4 linked regions of the Homo sapiens genome follow. The protein of the gene in region 1 purifies or fractionates together with the protein of each later gene. This does not show direct contact. Each region holds a gene or a part of one and is shown in the gene's direction. Other genes may lie near its edges. The genes, in order: BRD8, ACTL6A, JAZF1 and EPC2.

Region 1 (7,035 bases):
TATATTAGGATGCTAAGGAAGAGAAGATACAGTCTTTGTGAGGCAATGGAAAGGTATTCAATTAGTCCAGGAGTTAGAACATGAAATTCCTTGTTACATGGACATGTTGCAAACAAGAAAGGAAAATAAAAAATAACATTGTAGTCCCAAAGCAGTCTGCAAACAGGCATGAGATACAAACACAAGCTCTAAAAGCTGGGAGAAGTGTGTGGAAAAGGTCCATTAAAGGACATACGTTTTGAGTTGGTAGAGAAGGTGATAAATGAGACTAGCAAACCGAATGGAAGGTGTAGGCATCTGGTGGGGGTGGTGGGTGGCAATACGGAGAAAAATGTAATTAGAACAGGGATTATACTAAGGAATAAGGAGGTGTACATGTGAGTGAAGGGAACAAAATAAGGCTAAATTTGTGGAGGACTTTGGCAGATTGAGAAATTTATATTTGAGGTGATAGCTGTTATAAAGCCTTGAGTAGAATAACTATATTTGTTGAGAGCAGATAGGATTAAAGATAGAAAAGCTGACTAGGAGACTATGGCATTTATTCAGGAAAGGATGGACACTGAGAAAACTTATTGTGGGAGAAAACTGGGAAGAGGACTTGCTTACTGAATATAAGAGAAGGAAGGGTCAAAACAGAATTGTGGGTTCTGTAGACTAAGAAAATGGTGATGGGGTCGGGTGTGGTGGCTCACGCCTGTAATCCCAGCACTTTGGGAGGCAAAGGTGGGTGGATCCCCTGAGGTCAGAAGTTCAAGACCAGCCTAGTCAACATGGTGAAACCCCGTCTCTATAAATATACAAAAATTAGCCGGGCATGGTGGTGGGCACCTGTAATCTCAGCTACTCAGGAGGCTGAGGCAGGAGAATTGCTTGAACCCAGGAAGCAGAGGTTGCAGTGAGCCGAGATTGGGCCATTGTGCTCCAGCCTGGGCAACAAGAGTGAAAGTTCGTTCAAAAAAAAAAAAAAAAAAAAAGAAAAGAAAAGAAAATGGTGATGGGGATAAGGAAATTGGGAAGAAGCAGTGATTTTGGAGATAAAGGAAATGTGATTTTTATTTTAGAAATGTTACAGCAGGTGGTAGAGCATCTAAAGGGAATTGACTTTTGGATGCATGGAGAAATGACACCAGAATTCATATAAGAAGTAAAGGTAGAGAGATTTGGGAGCCACCTGAATAGAGGTCAAAGTTGAAACCTCAAAGTATATATACATTTTTTTAAAATACATTAATAAGAAAGCAGAGGACCAAGCATGAACATAGAAGGTAGGGATTTATTGAAAGTTGTAAAAGGGAGAGGACAAAGAAAGATATAAAAAAACCAAGATAGTGGTGTAATGAGAGCAAGGGAAGATATATTTTAAGCTTAATGTTTCTCAACATCAATTTGGATATGACCAGAAGGATGCCAAAGGCAATCCTAAAGTGTGTTTTGAAGGTTTAATGGTTCATAGGTTAAAAATGTTTATACACTGAGGAAAATATCCCCTGCCCCCTCAATTTGTTTGCCTTACGGTTTAGTTATGGATGATTTGGGCTAGAGGAAAATAATTGAGCTAGCTATGCTCCAGTTCTTTCCCTTCTTTTGGTGTGAATATGAGGAATTCCAAGTAAAAATAATTATTAGGTAATATTAATGTCTCTATTATACTGTATTGTATGGTGCAATATCTCTGTTATACTGACATGGGGCTTTCTTTATTCCCAAAGACAAATATAATTTCATCTCATGTCTCCCTTCAGCAAGATTTTAATTCTTCCTAATGATGAATACTTGAATACAAATAAATTTCTGGCCCCTTATTTTTCTACTGAACTCGGGAGATGGAGATGCCTCAGGAATATTTATTTGAATGAATTTAATGCATGTTTTCCTGTGTATTTACAGATGGGACACGAGTGGGTTTGGCTGGATTCTGAACAAGATCATCCCAATGACTCTGAGTTGAGCAATGACTGCAGGTCCCTCTTCAGCTCATGGGACTCCAGTCTGGATCTTGATGTGGGCAACTGGAGGGAAACTGAGGATCCAGAGGCTGAGGAACTAGAGGAAAGCAGCCCGGAGAGAGAACCTAGTGAACTGCTTGTTGGGGATGGAGGCAGTGAGGAATCTCAGGAAGCGGCAAGGAAAGCCAGCCACCAGAACCTCCTCCACTTTCTCTCTGAGGTAACAGTGAGCTCTTATTTCCAAAGCTGGAAAAGCCTCAACTTTCTAAGAGAATGCTTATCCTTACATGCTTCTACCACTCTTAATATTGTTTACTAAAATATAAGCTCCACAGTGGCAGGGATTAAGTTCATTGCTATGTCCTCAGCACTTGGTGCTGATACAGAATATGCACCAAATACATGCTTTTTGGGCCGGGTGCAGTGGCTCACGCCTGTAATCCCAGCACTTTGGGAGGCTGAGGCCAGTGGATCACTTGAGGTTGGGAGTTCGAGACCAGCCTGGCCAACATGGTGAAACCCCATCTCTACTAAAAATACAAAAATGGCCGGGCGCAGTGGCTCATGCCTGTAATCCCAGCACTTTAGGAGGCCGAGGCGGGCGGATCACTTGAGGTCAGGAGTTCAAGACCAGCCTGGCCAACATGGTGAAACCCCATCTCTACTAAAAATACAAAAAATTAGCCGGGCGTGGTGGCGGGCGCCTGTAATCCCAGCTGCTCGGGAGGCTGAGGCAGGAGAATCACTTGAACCTGAGAGGCGGAGGTTGCAGTGAGCTGAGATCACACCATTGCACTCCAGCCTGGGCGACAGAGCGAAACTCTGTCTCTAAATAAATAAATTAATTAAAATTAAAATTAAAATTAAAAAATTAGCCGGGCTTGGTGGCATGTGCCTGTAATCCCAGCTACCTGGGAGGCTGAGGCAGGAGAATCGCTTGAACCCGGGAGGCGGAAGTTGCAGTGAGCTGAGATCGTGCCATTGGACTCCAGCCTAGGTAACAGAGCGAGACTCCGTCTCAAAAGTAAAAAAATTAAAAATAAAAAAATACATGCTTTTTGACTGAATTTCTAATACTTCAGTCATTAGGGGCCTGGGTCATAAGGACTGCTTTATGAGTATCCTTGTAATTCATGCTTTTGGAGTTGTGGGAAGTTATACTTGCCCAAATTTTCCTTGAAGCTTAAAATGCTGTAACTTTAAGGTAGTATTTTTAAGTGTCATTACCTTGGTTAAGGGCTGAGGACCAGAAATAAACAGAATTGGACAGAGAGTTATATGTATGCTGTTATTGAACACATTTAGAAGACCCTAGATCAAGATCAGCAAGCATCCATTTCAAATGTTGCCACTTCTCTCTACAAGTGTCTGTGGTAGACAAAATTTTCAACACTTTATTCTAGACAGCCACTCCCAATTGATCAGAGTTGACAGCTGAGATGAAAAAGTAGAACATAAACTCCTGGAAGAGGCAAGAACCATATCTTTCTTGTTCACTGTAGTGTCCCCACCAACCAGCCCAGTGCCTGTGTATATAAGATATTTTGGCAGATTTTAGATGATTGTATTAATTAAACCATTTTGTCCTCTCAGACTTAGTCACTGTGACAGTGTTAGCATGTGGCATTGTTGATATGTGGATGATGATTTTCAGTGGTGTTCCTGTGCATCTAATAATAAACTTTGATTGCAGGTAGCTTATTTAATGGAGCCCTTGTGCATCAGCAGCAACGAATCAAGTGAAGGCTGCTGCCCTCCATCTGGTACCAGACAAGAAGGAAGGGAAATTAAAGCTAGCGAAGGAGAAAGGGAGCTCTGCAGAGAGACTGAAGAGCTTTCAGCTAAAGGAGACCCCTTAGTAGCTGAAAAGCCACTGGGAGAAAATGGAAAGCCAGAGGTGGCTTCAGCTCCCTCAGTTATTTGTACAGTTCAGGGACTACTCACAGAGAGTGAAGAGGTAAGAAAGTAACTTAAATCAGCTGTCTTGTTGGTCTTCTGCCTAGGGAAGCAGAACAGAGTAGTTAGAGCACATAGGCTAACTCCAGAAAGTTAAACTACCTGGATCCAAATCCTGGATTTAGCACCAGTTTTAGCTGTGTTACCTTTAGCATGTTAGTGAACATTTTAGAACTTCAGTTTTCTCTGCAGAAATGCAATAATAGCACCCTATTTTGTGGGATTGCTGTGAGGTTTAAATGAGATAATTCATGTAAAGCACTTAGCACAGTGCCTGGCTTATAGTAAGCAATCAGTAAAATTTAGAATACCGTCATCATTATTAATATTATCTGGCAGGTGGGGTGCAATGGCTCATGCCTGTAATCCCAGTGCTTTGGGAGGCAGAGGCAGTAGGATCTCTTGAGCTCAGGAGTTCAAGACCAGTCTGGGCAATACAGGGAGACACCATCTCTACAAAAAACAAAAAACAAATTAGCCAGGTATGGTGGCATGTTCCTGTAGTTCCAGCTACTTAGGGGTCTCGGGGGAGCCCAGGAGTGCAAGGCTGCAGTGAGCCATGATGATGCTACTGCACTCCAGCCTGGGCAACAGAGTGAGACCCTGTCTCAAAAAAAAAAAAAAAATTATCTGGCCAGCTAGAGTAGTTAACTCCAGGGCCACAGGTGATCATGATGGTTTTTAAAGAATCCAATGAGAATTGGGCAAATAATGCTTTTCCATTTTGCTGGAGGTGAGTGGCACAGAGTCAAAGTCCTCCAGCAAGATTGTTACCAAGAACTCATTAACTTAAATCTAGTTAAGTCAGCTTTCTTTAATTTCTTTTGTAGCTTTATGTAATTGACCTCTTCTCACCTTAAGGGCAGCCTTCATTTACTCTATGCAAGTAAAATTACTATGCAGAAAGTAAATCTCCTTCTAAAGTTTCCTGTTTCCTGGCATTCCTAGGGGGAGGCTCAGCAAGAATCCAAAGGGGAGGACCAGGGTGAAGTATATGTGTCAGAGATGGAAGACCAGCCCCCTTCAGGCGAGTGTGATGATGCCTTTAACATTAAGGAGACTCCCTTGGTGGATACACTTTTCAGCCATGCTACCTCCTCAAAGCTGTAAGCGTAGACTTTCATCCAAGTTTGTTAAGATTCGTACTTCTGTTTATGCCTATTTGAATCATGAAATGGATTACTTTTATAAGTTAAAGAAAATTAGAGTTGGAAAACACAAAAAATATAATTAATTAAGTATAATTTTAACATCATATAAATAGAAGTCTATATGCTCTCCTGTTATAAAACAAATATGTTTAATCAATATTAGGACTGTCTTTCAAGGCTAGGTGTGGTGGCTCACACCTGTAATTCCAGCACTTTGGGAGGCCAAGGCAGGAGGATCCCTTGATCCCAGGACTTTGAGACCAGCCTGGGCAACATAGGGAGACCATGCCTCTACAAAATAAAAATTAAAAAAAAATTAGCCAGGTATGGTGTCACTTGTCTATAGTCTCAGGTACTCCGGAAGCTGAGGTGGGAGGATCACCTGAGCCCAGGAGGTCAAGCTGCAGTGAGCCATGATTGTGCCACTGTACTCTAGCCAAGTCTGTATCACTCCAGCCTGGGTGATGGAGCTAATATTATACAAACTATGCCTAATATACAAACTATGGTGCTTTTTTTTTCTTTAATAGAGACAGGGTCTAGCTCCATCACCCAGGCTGGAGTGCAATGGGCACGATCATGACTCACTGCAGCTTGACTTCCTGAACTCAAGGGATCCTCCCACCTCAGGCTTCCAAGTAGCTGGGAATACAGCCATGGGCCACCACACCCAGCTGATTTTTTATTTTTTGTAGACAGGGCTGGCCTTGCTATATTGCCCAGGCTTGTCTTGAACTCCTGGTTTCAAGTGATCCTCCTACCTCAGCCTCCTAAAGTGTTGGGATTACAGGCTTGAGCCACTGTGCCTGGCCCAAACTATACCTCTTTTAAAAATATTAAAATAGATTTTATGAACTTGAAATGGAAAATTATTTTGATGGAGACAAGGAAGAGGATAAAAAAATTTTTTTTTAAAGAAAAAATTAGGCCAGGCGCAGTGGCTCACACCTGTAATCTCAGCACTTTGGGAGGCAGAGGCAGGAGGATTGCTTGAGCTCAGGATTTTGAGACTAGCCTGGGCAATATAGTGAAACCTCATCTTTACAAAAAATAAACAAAATTTATTGGGTGTGGGGGCATGCACCTGTAGTCCTAGCTACACAGGAGGCCAAGGCAGGAGGACTGCTTGAACTTGGGAGGTGAAGGTTACAGTGAGCTATGATCATGTCACTACACAGCCTGGGTGACAGAGCAAGACCCTGTCTCAGAAAACAAAACAAGAAATAAAAGAGAAGAAAAAAATTATTTTGAAGTTTGTGATCTTTGTTTCTTTTTCACATCTCTTAGGGGATTGTTTATGTCAAGCTTGTCTAATCCCTAGCCTGCAGCCCAGGACAGCTTTGAATGTGGCCAAACACAAATTCTTAAAACATTATGAGATTTATGCACTGACCCTTTTTTTTTCCCTTTTTTTTTTCTTTTTTTTTTTTTTTTTCCAGCTCATCAGCTATTGTTAGTGTATTTTATGTGTGGTCCAAGACAATTCTTCTTCTTCCTCCAGTGTGGCCCAGGGAAGCCAAAAGATTGGACACCCCTGGTTTATGCAATTGTCTCATCTTTGTATAGATAATTATAGGACTAAATAACACATTTTCAAATCTTAATGGGGGCTGTTTTTTTTTAACAGGAAACCAAAAAAATATTAATTTTTTTTTTTGAGATAGGATCTCACTCTGTTGCCCAAGTTAGAGTGCAATGGCATGATCTTGGCTCACTTCAGCCTCCGCCTCCTGGGCTCAGGTGATCCTCTCACCTCAGCCTCATGAATAGCTGGGAACACAGATGTGCACCACCACAACCAGCTGATTTTTTTGTATTTTTGTTAGAGACAGGGTTTCATCACATTGACCAGACTGGTCTCAAACTCCTGGACTCAAGCGATCCCCTGCCTTGGCCTCCCAAAGTCCTGGGATTATAGGCATGAACTACTGCATCTGGCATGAAGTGAATTACTTTTTAAAGCAGAAAAACAAAGTTGT
Region 2 (7,035 bases), on another chromosome or scaffold:
TTTTTCCAAATAGATTGTAAGTTTTTTTGAGTGTCGGGTCTAGACCATACAATTCTTTCTTTTTTTTTTTTTTTTATAAATCCAGCAGTAGTATCATCAGAAGGCCATACAATTCTTCTGTACTTCCTATTATCATTCTGATCACATTCTGGGCCTCTAATAAGTATTTATTGAATTGAATAACATTTACTTCATATTTTAGGTCTGTTAGATTAATTACATTTGGGACAGGTCTGGGGGCTGGAGGGACCAAAAAGAAGTTCTATATATCTAGAAGGCAAAGGTAATCTCTATATAAAGTAATGTGGTATGAAGTTGATCTGTAAAATCAGTAGGTTCTGTATACTAAAGTATTAATTGTTAAGTCATAGAAACAATTTCTCAAAAGATGCTATATTCATCTTCAACTATGCATTATTTCCAAGTTACTAATCTTATATTCTAGTTGAAGACTGGGATAGTTTCCAAGCTATTTTGGATCATACCTACAAAATGCATGTCAAATCAGAAGCCAGTCTCCATCCTGTTCTCATGTCAGAGGCACCGGTGAGATAAAGATTTTCTTTTTCACGTTTCTCTAGTTGTTTTTTTTTTTTCTTTTTTTTTTCCTTTAGTTTTCTACTCATTTGATGAACATTTTTCTTTAAAGAGGCATAGAAATTCATATTTTGAATTTGAAAATTAGGGAAAAGGATTAATTTTTTAACACTATTATAACTTTTATTTTACTATTCCAATAAATAAAATATCCAGAGAACAACAAAACACCCTAATGGATTCTTGTGGTTATTTATGTATTTCTAGGGATTTGTTTAACATTTTATTTCCTAGGACTGCTTCCCATTTTGAATTATGAATCATTTCTTGTGCCCCAAGGGCAGCGTATATCTACTTTTATTCAAGTTTCCAAGAAAGAATTGAGATGTTGAACAAGGGCTGGAAATTTCTGGACCAAAGTCTCTTGTGAAATACATTTGGTACATAGACAAAAAGGTCCCAGAAAGCAAGCATAATGGTCATAAATTATCAGTATCTTATTGTTACTAACTTACAGTATTCTTTTATGAATACCAACTATAAGTGGGAGAATTTGGTGGTCTAAAATTCATACTTAGGATTTGGATTACCATATTTACTCTTTAGATTTAATAATATGTTTATAAGAATCCTGGTTTCCTCATATGTGGAAAAGTCAGGAGCAATTTTATTATTAAAGAATTTTAATTCTTCTCTGATAGATTTATTAAATTTAATCTACATCTAAAGAAATAAATATTATAGAGGTTTTTTTATTTTTATGAGATATTATGAAAGATGATTTCCCATGGTATTTTATTCTGTTCTTAATGTTTTATATCTTTGTTAATATAGTGCTAGATTTTATCTGGAGATAAATCAACTTTTTAATTCTTAATAACTTGCATTTCTTTTTCCCCTCTTCTCAAGTGGAATACTAGAGCAAAGAGAGAGAAACTGACAGAGTTAATGTTTGAACACTACAACATCCCTGCCTTCTTCCTTTGCAAAACTGCAGTTTTGACAGCGTATCCTTGAAAGAGTAATACCTTTCCTCTTGAAGTATGTACGATACTAATGAATATGATAACTCTGGGAGAAGACATACGCCAATTATTGCTTGTTCCGAAGTTGTTTTTTTCCCTTTTCTCTTGCTTTTTAGCTATTCATCTTTTAGTATTTCTTGTTAGAACTGATGATACACCAGAAGGTATGAGGGAAATAAAATAACACTCAAATTCTGAGTGTTAAGACGTTTTTGTTTTTGTTTTTAAGAAGGGGCATGTGGATAGAAGGCAATGTTTTAACCAGTTGGCTTAGGTGAATTGAAAGATTGCCATTTTAAAATCTCCTTCCCTTCCAATATCATAGAAAACTGGAAATTGGCTGTAAATTCATTCTCCTTCAAATTTAGTCAGTCATCAAATCCTGCCTGTTCTTCCCTGCTATTTGCTTCTCTCTGTCCTACTGCCACAGCATTAGGTGGAAGCTATTTCCAGGATTACTGAAGCACGTCCTCTTGTCTGCCCATTCTTTACGCTGTTGCTCTAATAATCTTTCTATTTTTATTTATTTATTTATTTGGTAGAGATGGAGTTTCGCCATGTTGCCCAGGCTGCTCTCGAACTCCTGGACTCAAGCGATATGCTTGCCTCAGTCTCCCAAAGTGCTGGGATTACAGGCATGAGCCACCGTGCCCAGCCTCTAATAATCTTTCTAAAGTGCTAGTCTGCTTTAAGCCAGAATCGTCTTCTACATTTCTTCCTTTATTTTACTTTCAGACCGTGCTGAGGTACTTGCAGTTCTCTGACCTCGCTGTGTTCTCTTGCTTCTTGGTCTTCCCACATGCTCCTACTCTTGCCCATATTCCCTTCCCCAGATTTTACTATTGAATATCTCAGGAATAGGTTTCCCTTTTACATCACCATCTTCCCTGGGACATCCTGAGCTTTTCTTTTTACAGCTTTATTCATCATCTACTTCACTAAACAGGATAACCTTCAGGGAAAAGGCAGTTTTGGTGCACCATTGTGTGTCTACTGTGTTAAAGGAATTTTAGTGCCAGGTGAGCAGCCTCCCTCCTTCCTCCCTCCCTCCTTATTAAGCACCAGACTTAGTAGACACCTAATAGATGCTCAGTAAATATTTGATGAATGAGTGAATGTCCCTACTCCTAAACATCAGTTTAGTATATTCAGGTAGTATAGGCCATCTGCAGCACAGAACTGTGGAAAATGGGATCTGCCAATATTTACCAACTGTGGAATTCACCTGGAATAGTTTTCCCGCTCATTGAGTTGGAGGAGATAGGAACTGCCATATGGCTGCCAAACTGCTGAAACAGCTCTTTTTCAATGCTATGTGAGAATGGTTATAGTCCCTAGCTCAATTATCACAACCTCCCACTGTTCTTACCAAGTTTCTGTATATTTTGTTAAATAAATGCATCTCAGTTTGTTGTAAGCTCTTTGATCAGTCTCCAGAGACTTTTAGTGATTGTGTTAATTTTGACCAGCTTAATAGTAGCTGTTCCTAGGATAAAGGTTTCCCTGAGTGCCTGATACCTCCATTCTGGAATTCCTGCCTCTTACTATTTGTTTTTAAGCCAGAAATATTATTTTATACCAATTTTTATCCCTAGATTCACTGTAATACATTTTTAACTATAAGGTACATGTTTAAGAAATAGTTTCTGAAACATTATAAGAGCCTGCCCTTTACAATAAACATTATTTTAGCGGCCTTGATACTTTCTTTTCCTTAATGTTTTAAACTAGATTTGCTAATGGTCGTTCTACTGGGCTGATTTTGGACAGTGGAGCCACTCATACCACTGCAATTCCAGTCCACGATGGCTATGTCCTTCAACAAGGTAAATGTATTTAACCAGGATACACTGAGATGATTTTAGATGCCATGAGGATGCACATAATGAAATAAAATGATGAGTAGCACTATTAAAGCATATCAGTTTCTGAATAAGATTTTTTTTAAGTATGTTAAAAATCTTTAGTATATAATGTATATTTAAAACTGATGCATGGCTTTATTTATGTGTTGAAGGATAGTTCAGTTCATTCTACCTGAAAAAGTTATTCACATAAATACACCCACAGAGGAAATTCGTTCAAGGAAGTTTGGACTTACTGCCCTCTTAGCCTTGTTTCATCTGTTTCATAGGCATTGTGAAATCCCCTCTTGCTGGAGACTTTATTACTATGCAGTGCAGAGAACTCTTCCAAGAAATGAATATTGAATTGGTTCCTCCATATATGATTGCATCAAAAGTAAGTAATTATTGAATTTTCTTTGTAGAACTTACTTCTAGCTCCCCCACCCCTATGAAGTGAACTCCATTAACCTAGCATCTCTTGGTACTCTCAGGAAGCTGTTCGTGAAGGATCTCCAGCAAACTGGAAAAGAAAAGAGAAGTTGCCTCAGGTTACGAGGTCTTGGCACAATTATATGTGTAATGTAAGTAACCCTCATTCTCTTTACAAAAATGTTACAGGCTTTTTGCATGAGTATTAAAAAAAGTTATATATAGGCTGTAAATCCTTGAGTAAAATATGGGCACTTTATATTTTCAAGCTCTTTATTTTTTTTATTACTAAATACATTTTGAAGATTAAATAGAACATGATCTCAGGGTCACACTCTATATTTTTAATGATATTTTACTAACAAAAGAGCTTTTCTGTGAGAGGCATGCTTTTCATACTTGCCAAACAAATCTCTACAAATTACTACATACTCACTTGGATTACTATGGTGAGACCTGGAAGGAATTTTGGTTTTATGCTATTCTGAACATTTTTGGCTGAGAAAATGGTTTTAGGTTTTGTAGAGGCCTACTAGTATGTCTCAGTTATGTTCTGTTTCCCAGCATCAGTCAGCAATATCAAAAATGTGTTTTTGTTCAGAACAAGGAACCCATGAGAGATTCTCTTTACTAAAAACCCATCTCTGAACATATGGCTTACTGATGGGGAAGAGGTTAGTAAAACAACCTGATGCCACAGATACGCCTTAATTTCTTAAAAAAAAAACAAAAAAAAACTGTTACTTTAGGTTCAGGGGTACATGTGCAGGTTTGTTAAATGGGTAAACTCATGTCACGGAAGTTTGTTGTACAGATTATTGTCCCCCAGGTACTAAGCCTAGTACCCAATAGTTATTTTTTCTGCTCCATTCCCTCGTCCCTCAGGGAGGTCCAACTGTCTGTTGTTCCCTTCTTTGTGTCCATGTGTTCTCATCATCTAGCTCTCACTTGTAAGTGAGAACGTGCTGTATTTGGTTTTCTGTTCCTGCATTAGTTTGCTGAGGATAATGGCCTCCAGCTCCATCCCTGTTCCTTCAAAGGACATGATCTCATTCTTTTTTTTTTTTTTTCACTACATAATATTCTGTGGTCTGTATGTACCACATTTTCTTAATCCAGTCTTCCACCGACGGGCATTTAAGTTGATTCCATGTCTTTGCTATTGTGAATAGTGGTGCAGTGTACATACACATACATGTGTCTTTATGATAAACTGATTTATATTCCTTTGGGTATATACCCAGTAATGAGATTGCCAGGTCAAGTGGTAGTTCTGGGCCAGGCATGGTGGCTCACGCCTGTAATTTGAGAGGCTGAGGTGGGTGGATCCCTTGAGCTCAGGAGTTAGAGACCAGCCTGGGAAACATGGCAAAACCCTGTCTCTACAAAAACAGAAAAATTAGCTAAGTGGGGCCGGGTGCAGTGGCTCACGCCTGTAATCCCAGCACTTGGGGAGGCCGAGGCGGGTGGATCACCTGAGGTCAGGAGTTGGAGACCAGCCTGGCCAACATGGTGAAGCCCTGTCTCTAAAAATATAAAAAAATTAGCTGGGTGTGGTGGTGGGTGCCTGTAATCCCAGCTACTTGGGAGGCTGAGGCAGGAGAATTGCTTGAACCCAGGAGATGGATGTTGCAGTGAGCCAACACGGTGCCACTGCGCTCCTGCCTGGGCGACAGAGTGAGACTCCATTTCAAAGAAAAAGAAAAATTAGCTAAGTGTGGGGGTGTGCACCTTTAGTCCCAGCTACTTGGGAGACTGAGGTGGGAGAATCACCTGAGCCCTGTGAGGTCGAGGCTGCAGTGAGCTGTGATTGTACCAGTGCCTTCTAGCCTGGGTAACGAGTGAGAACCCATCTCAAAAAAGAAAAAAAAACAAATGGTAGTTCTGTTTTTAGCTCTTTGAGGAATTGCCACATGGCTTTCAACAATGGTTGAACTAATTTACATTCTCACCAAAAGTGAATAAACGTTCGCTTTTCTCTGCAGCCGTGTCAGCAGCATCTGTTATTTATTTAATTTTTTCAAGACAGAGTCTTGCTTTGTCACCCAGGCTGGAGCGCAGTGGTGCAGTCTCGGCTCACTGCAACCTCCATCTCCTGGGTTCAAGCAATTCTCCTACCTCAGCCTCCTGAGTAGCTGGGACTACAGGTGTGTGCCACCACACCTGGCTAATTTTTGTATTCTTAGTTGGCCAGGCTGGTCTCTAACCCTTGACCTTGTGATCCACCCGCCTCAGCCTCCCAAAGTGCTGGGATTACAGGCGTGAGCCACTGTGCCCGGCCCTATTTTTTCACTTTTTAATAATAAATAATAGCCATTCTGACTGGTGTGAGATGGTGTATCATTGGGGTTTTGATTTTCATTTATCTGATGGTCAGTGATATTGAGCTTTTTTTCATATGCTGTTGGCCGCATGTATGTTTTCTTTTGAAGTGTCTATTAGTGTCCTTTGCCCACTTTTTAATGAGGCTTTTTGTTGTTGTTGTTCCTTATAGAAGCTAGGTATTAGACCTTTGTTAGATACATAGTTTGCAAATATTTTCTCCTATTCTGTAGGTTGTTTGCTTACTCTGTTGATAGAAATTAATGTGTATCCAGCAAAAGAAACTAAGAGTAAAATTATATGAGTCATAATTTACTATGAGAGGGATCATATCTAACAGGTTTTTTAAAAATTATTTTATTTATATCATATACACACACACACACACACACACACACACACACACATTTTAAAGACAGGGTTGGCTGGGCACGGTGGCTCATGCCTGTAATGCCAGCACTTTGGGAGGCCAAGGCAGTGGATCACTTGAGGCAAGGAGTTCAAGACTATCCTGGCCAACATGGTGAGACCCCATCTCTACTAAAAATACAAAAATTAGCTGGGTTTGGTGCTGAGCACCTGTAATCCCAGCTACTTGGGAGGCTGAGGCAGGAGAATTGCTTGAACATGGGAGATGGAGGTTGCATTGAGCCAAGATTGTGCCACTGCATTCCAGCCTGGACGACAAGAGCAAGACTCTGTCTCAAAAAATAAATAAAGACAGGGTCTCTCTCTGTCACCCAGGCTGGAGTGCAGTGGTGCAGTTGTAGTTCACTGCAGTCTCAAACACCTGGGCTCCCCCTGCCTCAGCCTCCTCAGTAGGGAGGACTACAGGTGCATGCCACCATGCCTGGCTAATTTTTTATTTTTATAGA
Region 3 (4,754 bases), on another chromosome or scaffold:
CTCGCCTGGGGTCTCATGCAGTTGCTCTAAGACACCAGTTGGGGCTAGAATCATCTGAAGGCTCACTTGGGCTGGATACACACGTTGGCCTCTTCACTCATGTGCCTGGGCCTCGGAGGGGATGGAACCGCCAGGGACTGGCAGGGCATATCTACCCATCTAACATTTCAGTGGGTCTGATTCTACCACCACCACTACCCTCCCCTTTCCTGCCCCAGTAGGCTCTGAAACCCCCAACATGCCTCTTAACAAGACTGAAGTACCTTATGTTTGAAAGGATTGATGCTGGAAGGACAGGGCTGAGGTGCAGAAGGCCTGGAGCCAGGTGTTCAGGGGAGAGTGTTTGTCCTTCTGCTTCAAATCACTGGACAACCTTCAGACTCTGAGCATAGCCAGCTGCTACTTGGCACCCCTGGGTTCAACAAAGTCCAGCAGAGTTCTCTTCCAAGGACTTTTAAAAAAGCATTCATGTGTACTGCACATCTCTAGTGTAGTAATCACCACCACGTTTATATTTAGTAGCAACCCTTCTTCCAGACTAGTGAGGCGTGAACTTGGGAAGTGCTGTTGTAACTTCATTCACTCACAAAGACTTAGCATCGACAATGTGCCAGGCACTGTGCTAGGTATTCATGAGACAACAGCAGGGAGCTGTTTTCTGGGAGCTCTTTGAAGGCATCCCATGAAGAGTGGGAACAATTTGTGTTGGAATCCTTCAGTTGGGCAAGGGACTGGCTCTAGCAGGACTGGATTTAGGTAATATTTTAGGAAACAGCTCACTCTCCTAAAATCTGTGCTTTTTGTTTCAGGCTGTCTCTTCTGTGTTCCCTTACTCTCTAATCTGGCAATTGCTGACTTGGAAATTAAGACCTATCTCAAATACCACACGTCCGCCGTCCCTTCTTAGATCTTCCACCAGTTACTTACTACCCTCAAGCCCATTTCCTCACCATTTAATTGGGATGAGGATTACTGGTGGTTAAAACTGTAGAGAGTGACTCTTACATAGAATACGGAATCTTACATAGAATATGCTGGTGAACTAGCAAAACCGACAAACAGAAATTTAGAAAGCATTTTGATAACTTTAGTATCCAGATGCTAAGAAGTCCAATCTTAGTGACTAACATTATATAACCTTAAATTTTTAAAGTTCATTGTATGTTTGGAATGTAATACTTAAGGTAAGGACTAGTCTGACTACAGGTGCTTATTAAACATGTACAACTGTACGGCGGGGACAAGATTTGGGCAACAAGTAGCTCCCACAGTGGCATCAGAGATACTGGCTTAGTGCAGAGCAGAAAACTGACAAAAACTCTGGTTAAGGCATGGTAGGGAACTGTTAACACAGTTATCTAGAAGCAAGCTGTAAATTGAGTTTCCAAATCAAAAATTTCTATATGTTAAACTTTTGGGATATGCCCTGATGTTTTTCTTTAGAAAGATATTTTGTTGGTCATGCTGAGGATATTTGTGTAGGATTGTTCACTGTTAACTTTCTTTAGAGTGGAAAAGATTCAGAGGATTTTCTTTATACAGTCTGTAAGTCCTAAATATATATTTTATATAAAATTGGAAGAAATCAGTACTTTCATTTTCAGAGTAATTGAGGCACATCTGAAATTTTGAGTCAGCTGTGTGTGTGACCATCCGTACAGCCCATGACCGACACACCAGAATGTCCTTGAAGGGTCCCAACTGGAGTCCTTGCAAAAGACTACACTCTAAACAGCTGCCATCCAGGAACTGCAATCCAGACCCAAATTGAGGTTTCCGAAGTTTGACAGGTATCCTGTGAATCCATGTAATAAATATTTTTGTCTTCTCCACAGAATGTGAATGGCATAAAGTATCACGCTAAGAATGGTCACAGAACACAGATTCGTGTCCGCAAACCATTCAAGTGTCGCTGTGGGAAGAGTTACAAGACAGCTCAGGGCCTGCGGCACCACACAATCAATTTCCATCCCCCGGTGTCGGCTGAGATTATCAGGAAGATGCAGCAATAACATGCTGGTCATAACTGTGCCAAGAAATCCTCACCAGCAGTTGCTGATTTTGAAAACAGCCACCTTTTTTCAGGGGAAGCATTCAGCAACCCTTTAAAGAAAAAGAATTAAATGCATGCTTTAAATTTTTTCTGTAATTTTGGAATGATGTATCTTTGTAGAGTTAATGATTTTGTACATTTGCACATGTAATCATCATACCCATTTTCATTACTTTGATATAAGGTGCTAAACAAAAAAAGCTCTAGGTTCTTCAGCACATTTCCCCCAAAACAAAATAAAATTGAGGGCATGTTGCATATTGTTGAATTGTATTGCGGTGGTATCAACCTGGGGGGAGGAGGGGCTGGCACTGAGATTTTTTTTTCAAGATTGTAATGTGATTGAAGTTTTCAACACATCAACTCACATATGTTCAAAACCAAAATAATACCTTCATTATCAAACTGGTTACCATGCCTTACATAATGGAGTTAGTATTTGTGAGTAGAAAGACTTTAGGTAATGGAAATATAAATAAGAAAGAATGTTTAACATAATATGCTAAAAATATTTTCATATTTAAATAACATACGTAAAGGTGTGCTTTCTGTGTTTTATATTATCTTGCAAATCCTTTTGCCCTTTAAAAAGCTGAAAATCTTGCCATCTGACTTACTAGTCATTTTAGTGTTATAAATGGCATTTTGTACAAAATAGTCTATTCAGTTCGTTCATTCATTTAACACACATTGATTGAGTGCCTGCTGGGTACAAGGGATTCAATTTATGCCTATTGATATCTGCGGACCAAGATACCCATTTAGTGAAATACTTTTTTCCCTGAAATCTGTTAGAAAAGACTTTGAAATACTTCAGTGCAAAGTGTGTGTGTGTGAAGTTTAGTTATATCTTCATCTTCAGATGAAGTTTTAAAGCACTTTGTAGTTCTCTATTGCCAACAATTTAATGTTTATGTGTTGCCAATTCTTGCAACCACTGCCCTACCAAACCTGTGGGTTGCAAATCAGAACTAAAATTCTAAGCACGTTTCAAAGATGAACACTTTTGTTAAGACCCCTATTGCCTCTTCTTCATGCTCATTTTTTACTTTTTTTAAAAGGTACTTTTCTCATCACATTGTAGAGAGGTCTGCATTCTCATTGGAAATGTCTGTTTAGCTTTATAAAACAAACACTTTGCTGAAATAGGAAAATGAGCCTTATTGACAATTAAGTGCTTCTTGCAGCAGGTGGTCAAAGAAAAGCATGACTAATACGACCTATTAGAGTAATCTACATCTGGACCATTCCTTAAGTTTTTCCTCACCGACAGTACCATCATGCCTTGAGTGTTCTTTTCTCCCAAGTGCTATTCCTTAAACACGAGAGTTTACCAGTTGCCTAATAATGCAATAAAAAATGCTTTGAGATAGCTAACTGCCCATAAAACAAACTCAAATTGCTTATAAAGTTTCTTCCCATGTTCCCATTTGATGAAAAGTCTTACATCACATATAACTGGGAAGCAGGGGTCCCTCCTCAATTTTCAGACATTTTGAAAGGATGACAGTTCTGTTTGTTAGATGAGTAAACCTCTATATTCATAAGTTCTAAAATCCTTCATTATGAGGGATTCAAAGTATTTATAAAAACACTGCCCTCTAAAAATTTCCTCAGATCTGAAGTATGGTCTTGGTCCTGAATATACAGTGTTATCCTATGTTTAAAAGGGTGATCCAGACATGAGACGCAACTAGTTGGTGCATAAGAAGGCCCCACTTGGCTATTTCATATCTACCTACAATTGACCAAAAAAAATTTTTTAGGCCAGCAATTATTATTTAGCTTCGCTCTTTCTAGTGCAAGAAACTGCAGGCTGGATCAGTAGTTCAACAGCTAAACAGTCATAAAATAGTCATTGTGCATGTTAAATTTCTTTCAATGCTTTCAAAGATAAATTCCAATTTCTATTTACTTATTCATTGTGACAGTATTACTAAACAGGTAAGGATGGGAATATTTTGTTATACTGTGTATAGTGAATGTATTGTACTGTGTCTGTGAAAACTGTGCTTTAAATTATATTTTCATATGTTTTGTTGGGGACAGAGCACATTAAGTCTGAAAGCAACAGAGGTTTGTTTTAGAACTGAAGGCAATTTAATCAAAATTCCTGTCAAGAAAAGCTGCTTATAAATGTAAATGAAATCACATTTAAAATAAACTGCCTCTGACCCAAAAATAAATATGGCTCTTTATTTTCCTTAGTGTCCATTATGAAAACCAGTATCAAGTTTACCATGGAAATTAATATATCCATTCAGTTCCTCATTCTAAGGCTGTTCAGTTGATGCATGTAGACTTTATTCCCTTACATTTTTGCTTAGATTAGATTAGGCTGTATTACTTTTCTGTCAATAACAAATTAAGCTTGGACTTACTTACTTAAACTATTTTAAAATAAGTTCTAGGCTAGTAAGATGAACAGTGTCTACTACTATAATAAATATTCCAAGGATACTTTTGGATTAACATGGTCCATAATTATTAACTCCAACAAAAATGCTCCCATTGTTGAACATATTTTACCTAAGTATATAACCTATCTGGAAGCTGAAAGTCTCCAAAGCTATTGCTTCCTAGGACTGCTGTGTCCTAACAGCTGGCATATGAATGCCTCATACTGGTTTGCCCTAGACTCAAAAAACTTTTTAAAGGATTCTAACAATATACAAACTCTGCTTCCACAAACAAATACAAG
Region 4 (7,035 bases), on another chromosome or scaffold:
CCTCCCGGGTTCAAGTGATTCTCCTGCCTCAGCCTCTCAAGTAGTTGGGACTACAGGCACGTGCCACTATGCCCAGCTAATTTTTGTATTTTTAGTAGAGACGAGGTTTCACCGTGTTGGCCAAAATGATTTCGATCTCTTGACTCTTGCTCCACCTGCCTCGGCCTCCCGAAGTGCTGGGATTGCAGGCGTGAGCCACCGTGCCCTGCCGCGCCTTGCAATTTTTTTATTAGCTCTTTTAGAAAGAATTATTTTCAAACTAGAGCATGAGTGCTAAACTTGGATACTTTTCAGTAGCCTACTTCAATTGCCCAATTTTAAGGAAGAAGAAATCCAAATTCTGATAAAACTAGAGTTGAAACCCAGAACCTCTGATTCTTTGTCCTGTCCTTTCTGCCTCTTTAATACATGCTAAAAGTGGAGATTCTTAAAATCAAAATTAAGCAAACCGTAACAGTTAAGATTTATAGTCTGAAATCTTTTGCTTCCCAGAGTGTCCAATTGGAGTATTAGTTTTTCTTTTTCTTTCTTTTTTAAATATGTATGTCAGAAGACTTGTGTTTTCATGAGTGACAGCAAATTCATTTCTCTGGTCTTACAGGACTTCTGTTATTAAACAGAATTATGTATTTATAAAAATGGTTCTGCCTTGATAAATATTTCTAAGCAGCAGTAAAATGTCATACATTTCACAAATGTTTTGTGTTTCACTTGAATTGCATTTTAAGTAACTTTCAATATCTAGATGTCCTTAACTCCTTATTTTTATAAGATTTTTTTCTTTTAAATCAGTAGGCTTGTAACAAACAAACCAACCTTGGCTTACGGATTCACAATTGTTGCTGGGTGTCTCTGAACTGTGCTGTCCTGCTTGGTTGGCAAAATCTTTTGAAGCCTTCATGGATGGCTTTTTCCCATTCCCCCTCTATCCCCACCCACCCTTAAAATTAAGGCCTGTCTCTTCTGTGTAGCTATTGGACTATCATTAGACTTCGTTTATATAAACAAAGTCATTATTCAAGTTCGAGTTACATTCTGACTGAGTTACATTCTGACAATGCCTGGATGAGGTGATTTAGGTGTTCTTGGGCATTGGTAACATTGTATCATTGATAATCATGTCATCCTGTGTAGCCTCTTCTTTTGGACATCCAAACATCTTTTACTTCTTTTCTTCCCTATCCTTATTATCATTGTCCTCTGCTAAGAGCTGCCAGTTGGCATCCTCCTTTAACTTGGTCTTTGTAATGCTCCTCACGGCACTTGGTCTAGGTCAAGTACTGTACACTTATGTTTATTTAGAATTTAGACCAGAAAGATCAGGCAGCCAGCGGTTCTGCCGCCTCCCCATGAGTGTTGTATAGTGGTAGTTGATGTTTTTACTAATACTTGCCATTTACTGAATACTTCATATATCCGAGATACTGTGTTAAGGGCTTTACATATATTATTTCATTTAATCCTTTTTTTAAATAAACTTTTTTTGAAGTATACTTTACATACAAAAAAAGTACCTATATACAGTGTGGAGTTTGATGAATTTTGACAAATGCATACAAACATGAAAACAAGATATAGAACATTTCCAACATTGGAGAAGTTCCCTTGTGCTCCTTTGCAACCAGTCCCTTTCCACTCCTAGTCCAAGCAATTGTTGATTTGTTTTGTTTTACTGTAGATTAGGTTGCCTTTTCTACAATTTCATATAAATGGAATCATACATACTTTTTTATGTCTAGCTTCCTTTGTTCCGTACGATGCATTTAAGATTCATCCTTGTTGTATGAGTCTGTTCCTTTATATTGCTGAGTAGTATTCCAGTGAATTTGGTATGCTATCTTTATGCATCTCTCTGATTTTTTAGTTGTTTCCAGTTTTTGATTATCATTTAATTCTGGTAACAGCCCTGTGAGGTATTACCATTTCTGTTTTATAGAGGAAAAGCTGAAAGGTCTTGCTGCTAGTGCAGGGCTGAAATTCAGACCCTTGACATTGGTGTCACAAAAGCATATACTCATAGTCACCATGCTGCATATTCAGGGTTCTTACAGAATCCAGAGTTATCTTCTGAACTGTGATTAAGTTCATTATAGCTTTTGTAAATAATATTTTACTTTTTATAACTTTGGAAACCTTAGAAGTTGCCAATTTGGTTAGACTGTTAAATTATTAAGAAGTGTAGTTTTTTCATTACTTAATTTGGTCTGACTTTTGCTCTTGGGTTTTCAGATTTTCTTTCTTTTTTCTTAGCAGTTTGTGAACTTTGCTTTCCCCTGTATTGGCACCATTATATTTATCCCACTGTTTATGTTATCTTAAGCATATAAGAAATTTGTGGGAAACTGTCCCATTTTATTGTTTAGATTTTTCTCCTGCTAGGATATAATGTCTCTAAGGGCAAAGATCTTTGCTTATTTTGCTCATTAATATATTCCAAGTGCCTGGAACTGTGCCTGGCACATAATACATGCTTGCAAAATGTTTGTTGAGTGTTGAATGGGCTTCTATTTCTTTTTCTGTTCCAAGAGCTATATTTGTGTCTTTTCTCCCCCTCCCCCAATATCTATCTATATATAAAATTTATTAGCAGCATTTGATAAAGTCTTCTTCCAGGAATTCTTTTTGGTTGCTTACTTTGGTACTATGTATATCTAAATATTATATCCTCTTTTCCTCTTGAGTCAGAGGCCTCTTTAAATATAGAATCTTTTCACACGCCGATATGGTTGTAATGATAAATCTTTATCTTGTTTTAAGTAACTCTCATAGGTGTGTGTAGATTTCTGTGAGATACTTTTTCATACCAGAATGTACCAGTCTACATGAATCATGTGATTCACCTTATTTTTAAAGAAGATCCATGACTAATTTGAATTGCCATATCTCCTCTCATATGTTGTCTAATTTTTGCCGTTATGTTAATATTTTAAGTGATATTTTGAATTGATACAGTAGGAATATAATCCTGATTGATACCTTTTCAGAATTACTATTGGCACTAATATATTTCATGTTTCATAATGGAGAGGGTATAAAATGCAGTTTTGTAAGTTGATACTGTAAAAACATGAAGCATTTCTTCTTCTAACAAAAGCAAATGACATGCCAGGTATTATCTAAATGCCAGTTGTTATCTAAATAAGATATTGGGAAACTAAAGTGTTCTGTATAGGAAAAGTATGTGTAAGGCCGTGTACTGAAATGTTAGGAATAAAAGAAGATGCAGACTTCAATTTCATAGAACTTAAATGAACCATTAAGTCCAAAAACATGTATCTGGAAAGTTAGCAAAAACTACAGGGTTAAGACAACCTGACAGACATCAAAAGAGCATTAGAGAAAGTTAAATGTTAGTGTAGTTGAGAGGCATGAGGTGATTCATTGCATGTCATAAAGAAGGCTTCTTGGAGAGAGGCGTAACAATTTGGGCTTTCAGGTTTGGTTGTATGGTGTATGTTGAAGCAAATATTTGAGCATAAGAATATCTAAAGGAAGTTCTGAGGATGCTGAGTAGACCAAAGGAAGGTTCTTCCATGTTAGATGCTTTCTGTCAATCATTTCCTATTCTTCCTGCTAATAGAAACTTTAGGAGGATAGCACTCTGATGTTGCTGACCATATCATTCCCCTGTTTTCGTTCGGACATGCAGACATCTTTTGCTTCTGTCTTCCCCTTCATTTTATCCCTGTTACATCTTCAGCACTAAAAACCGTTTAAAACATAGAAGCACTCAGTAAATATTTGGTGAATGAAGGAGTAAAAATAGGGGTGGAGATTAGGTTGGAAAAAAGGTAGAATTAGACTAAATTATAGGCAGTTTTGAATGTTAGGCCTAGGAGTTTGTAGGGTGGTATAGATGAAAGACCACTGAAGTATGATTCTGGAGTTTTTGTTTCTAGTTCTGGTTGTCATGGATTAACCCATTTATGCCTAAGTGGGTTAAATGGCCATATAATTTGGAAGTTGCTTAGCTTTTCTGAGCCTCAGGTTGTTCATCACTACTATCTCAGCTAACATTTGAGTGTGTGTTGTTGAGTGTTTGAGCATGTGCCAGGCACTTTGTTAAACTTAATAGATGGTTTAGAGTTGATTTTAAGAGTAGGACATATAGGTGTTACTACTTCTTTTTCAGAGGAAGAAACTGAAACTTTAGAAATTAAGTAACTCGCCTAAGATCATCCGTCTAAAAAAGAACATGCTAGAGCCAGAATTTGCACTCAGGCTGATTGACTCTGGGGCTCTTGCTTCACCGTTGTACTGCTTCATCTGTAAAATGAATGGGTTGAGAACTAGAAGATATCTAAGGTCCTTTATAGCTTTACTGTTCTATCATTTATTTTCCCATTTAAAGTTCAAAATTCCAGATTCTTGAGATAGAGAGCGTTATTGGTCTGGCTTGCATCAGGTATCTACCTCTGAGTCTGCCATTCAAAGAGAAGGGGAAGTTAGTATACCTATGTTGAGAAGTGTTACCCTCTCAGCTGGAGAGCTGCCCTGAGAGATCTGCTACCGATGGTAATATAGCATGATCAAAAGTTAGGAAGTTAAAGTGTTAAATCATTTTAATCCATGATTTGTCCCAAGGTGAATTTGTATACTTAGTGTGTTTTTACAAACCATAAATTTGTAAGATGTTTTAATGAGCTTAGAATAATTTGTATGTGTTATGTTTTAAATGAAATTTGAATCAAAGACTGTAAAAGAAGTCTCCAGTGTCCTTTTAAAAAAAAGCAAACTCTTCACACTTATTAATTTTCAAAGTTGTAAGGGATGAGTTTTGTTTGACCGCGTAGAAATTATTTAACCTTCCTGGCCCTTAGTTTTCTCATTTGTGAAATAGAATTGGACTGAGTGACCTTTAAAGTACCTTTGACTCTAAAAATTACTTGAACCTCTGAAACCGCATGTCTATCTACTGGCATATTGTCCAGGATTATAATTAGATGAAAAGAACTAACAAATGTGACATTAAATATTGGGAAGAAATTAATGCTTAAGGTTTAACTCTTTAATACTGCTGAGATCCTGTCAATTTGGCTTATCGTTCTTTTATGAGGATCGATTATATTCGTCCTCTATCTAATATTAATTTTTCCTAGAGCCTAGTAGAGCAATCCATTCTGTGTATGTTTTGGTTATGATCATCTTGCTTTCATGAAATTTTCTTCACTTTACTAGGCTTACTCATTGCTGTAAGTATTCTGAAGTTCAGTAGTACTTTTAGTCTTTACCACTTGAGTTTATTTTAATTTTCTAGTATCATTTTTCTCACTTGAGTGTGTGTGTAATGGTGTGTGTGTGAATTTTATATATGTATGAAAAAGAGCATGTGCACGAGAGAGAGTAGACACTTATTTCCCCAACAAGACTAAATGTCTTGAGGGAAGGTATCATGTGTGTTTTATTCAGTACCCAAGACAGGCAGGATAGCAATCCAGGTACTTCTGTCACTTTCTGTCTTAAGTGATAAAAAGTTTGTAATACAGGCACTTAGCATGTTGCTGGTCACTTGGATTGAGTTTCGTTGTATTGGTAAACAATGCAGCTCTGCATCTTCATTTAGTTTTAAGTAGAGTTGAAGTAGAAAAACAGTAATGGGTGTGTAGAGACAGCATGAGGAGGAGAGGCTGATAGGAATAAGCCCTGAAGGAGACCAATGCAGATGGCAGAAGGTCCATCATGATTATTTGATTTTAACTTAAAGTTGATCATCGATTATTTGCCTTGTCTATACTATTTAAATGGGACAGAGCTTTAAATTTACATATTCTATCATGCAGAACCGCTTCTTACAGGGTTAACACTGTGGAGGAAGATGCCAGTCACTTCCAGTTTCTCCTCAGCAGTTTCATTGTATCTGTCTTCTTTTAGGTTTTTTGTTTTACTGTAAGCAGCTGTTGCTATAAAGTCAGAGGAATGCAGACTGGAGAGTCAGCCTATCTGCTACCTCTCTTAACTCCTATCTTTGCTTCCCTGCTTGCTTGCTTTTTTTTTTTTAAATGGGCTAAGGACGTGTCTCATGTCTTGGTTGGGGAGTCAACAAGCAGCATTCAGTTTTGCTGCTAATTTGGTGAAGTTGTTGGAACTTTGAAATTGTGATTTAGGTTCCAATCCTGGCCTCTGCCACTTGCCTTATGGGTGAGGTAAATTACTTAACCTCATTGAGCCCCATTTCCTCATCTGTTTAATAAGTATCTGAAAAGTTAGTTTTAAAGATTACTTTTTTTTTTGTTTTTTTTTTTTTTGGAGACAGGGTCTTGCTCTGTCACCCAGGCTGGAGTGCAATGGCGCGATCTTGGCTCACTGCAACCTCTGCCTCCCTGGTTCAAGTGATTCTCCTGCCTCAGCTTCCCAAGTAGCTTGGGACTATAGGCACACGCCACCACGCCCAGCTAATCTGTGTATTTTTAGTAGAGATGGGGTTTCACCATCTTGGCCAGAATGGTCTTGATCTCTTGACCTCGTGATCTGCCTGCTTCTGCCTCCCAAAGTGCTGGGATTACAGGTGTGAGCCACCATGCCCGGCCAAGATTACATTTTTTTGTAAAAACTTAAGTCTGTGTCTTATAGGCAACACTCATTTTTTTGGTAACAATTTTCACTTATACAGGATAACAAATATGAAGGTTGATGGAAGAGTAAAATGTAGAGTATTCCCATACATTATTCTGTGATAGAGTTTCACATTTTTTCTCATGCCAATTAAACATTTTTACAGCTTGAGGCCAGGAGTTTTGAGACCAGCTTGGGCAACATAGTATGGCTTCGTGTCTACAAAAAATAAAAACATCAGCTGGGTGGAGTGGCATGTACCTGTAGTCTCAGCTACTTAGGAGGCTGAAACTGGAGGATTCCTTGAGCCCGGGAATTCAAGGCTGCAGTGAACTGTGATAGCGCCACTGCACGCCAGCCTGGATGACAGAGTGAGACTGAGGCCCTGTCTCTTAGAAACAAACAAACAAAAAGAGAGAGCGCTTTCAAACATTACAAGTTAATATGTGTGTTTTCCTCCTTCCTTCTGTTTTCTGGCACAGC

Evidence for each region.
Region 2: the proteins of BRD8 (region 1) and ACTL6A fractionate together in Homo sapiens (co-fractionation; 4 studies listed by BioGRID and IntAct, with this or other methods). This does not show direct contact.
Region 3: the proteins of BRD8 (region 1) and JAZF1 purify together in Homo sapiens (affinity purification with mass spectrometry; 3 studies listed by BioGRID and IntAct, with this or other methods). This does not show direct contact.
Region 4: the proteins of BRD8 (region 1) and EPC2 purify together in Homo sapiens (affinity purification with mass spectrometry; 2 studies listed by BioGRID and IntAct, with this or other methods). This does not show direct contact.

Annotation. Positions count from the first base shown.
Region 1 is NC_000005.10:138,147,616-138,154,650, reverse strand, and holds part of BRD8 (bromodomain-containing protein 8), read left to right. Parts: intron 1-1,890; coding exon 1,891-2,169; intron 2,170-3,642; coding exon 3,643-3,906; intron 3,907-4,853; coding exon 4,854-5,011; intron 5,012-7,035. UniProt on the Homo sapiens protein: May act as a coactivator during transcriptional activation by hormone-activated nuclear receptors (NR). Isoform 2 stimulates transcriptional activation by AR/DHTR, ESR1/NR3A1, RXRA/NR2B1 and THRB/ERBA2.
Region 2 is NC_000003.12:179,572,924-179,579,958, forward strand, and holds part of ACTL6A (actin-like protein 6A), read left to right. Parts: intron 1-445; coding exon 446-546; intron 547-1,446; coding exon 1,447-1,544; intron 1,545-3,293; coding exon 3,294-3,388; intron 3,389-3,696; coding exon 3,697-3,803; intron 3,804-3,838; exon of another isoform or gene 3,839-3,900; coding exon 3,901-3,990; intron 3,991-7,035.
Region 3 is NC_000007.14:27,830,058-27,834,811, reverse strand, and holds the end of JAZF1 (juxtaposed with another zinc finger protein 1), read left to right. Parts: intron 1-1,835; coding exon 1,836-2,012; 3' UTR 2,013-4,235; downstream 4,236-4,754. UniProt on the Homo sapiens protein: Acts as a transcriptional corepressor of orphan nuclear receptor NR2C2. Inhibits expression of the gluconeogenesis enzyme PCK2 through inhibition of NR2C2 activity.
Region 4 is NC_000002.12:148,647,720-148,654,754, forward strand, and holds part of EPC2 (enhancer of polycomb homolog 2), read left to right. Parts: intron 1-7,035. UniProt on the Homo sapiens protein: May play a role in transcription or DNA repair.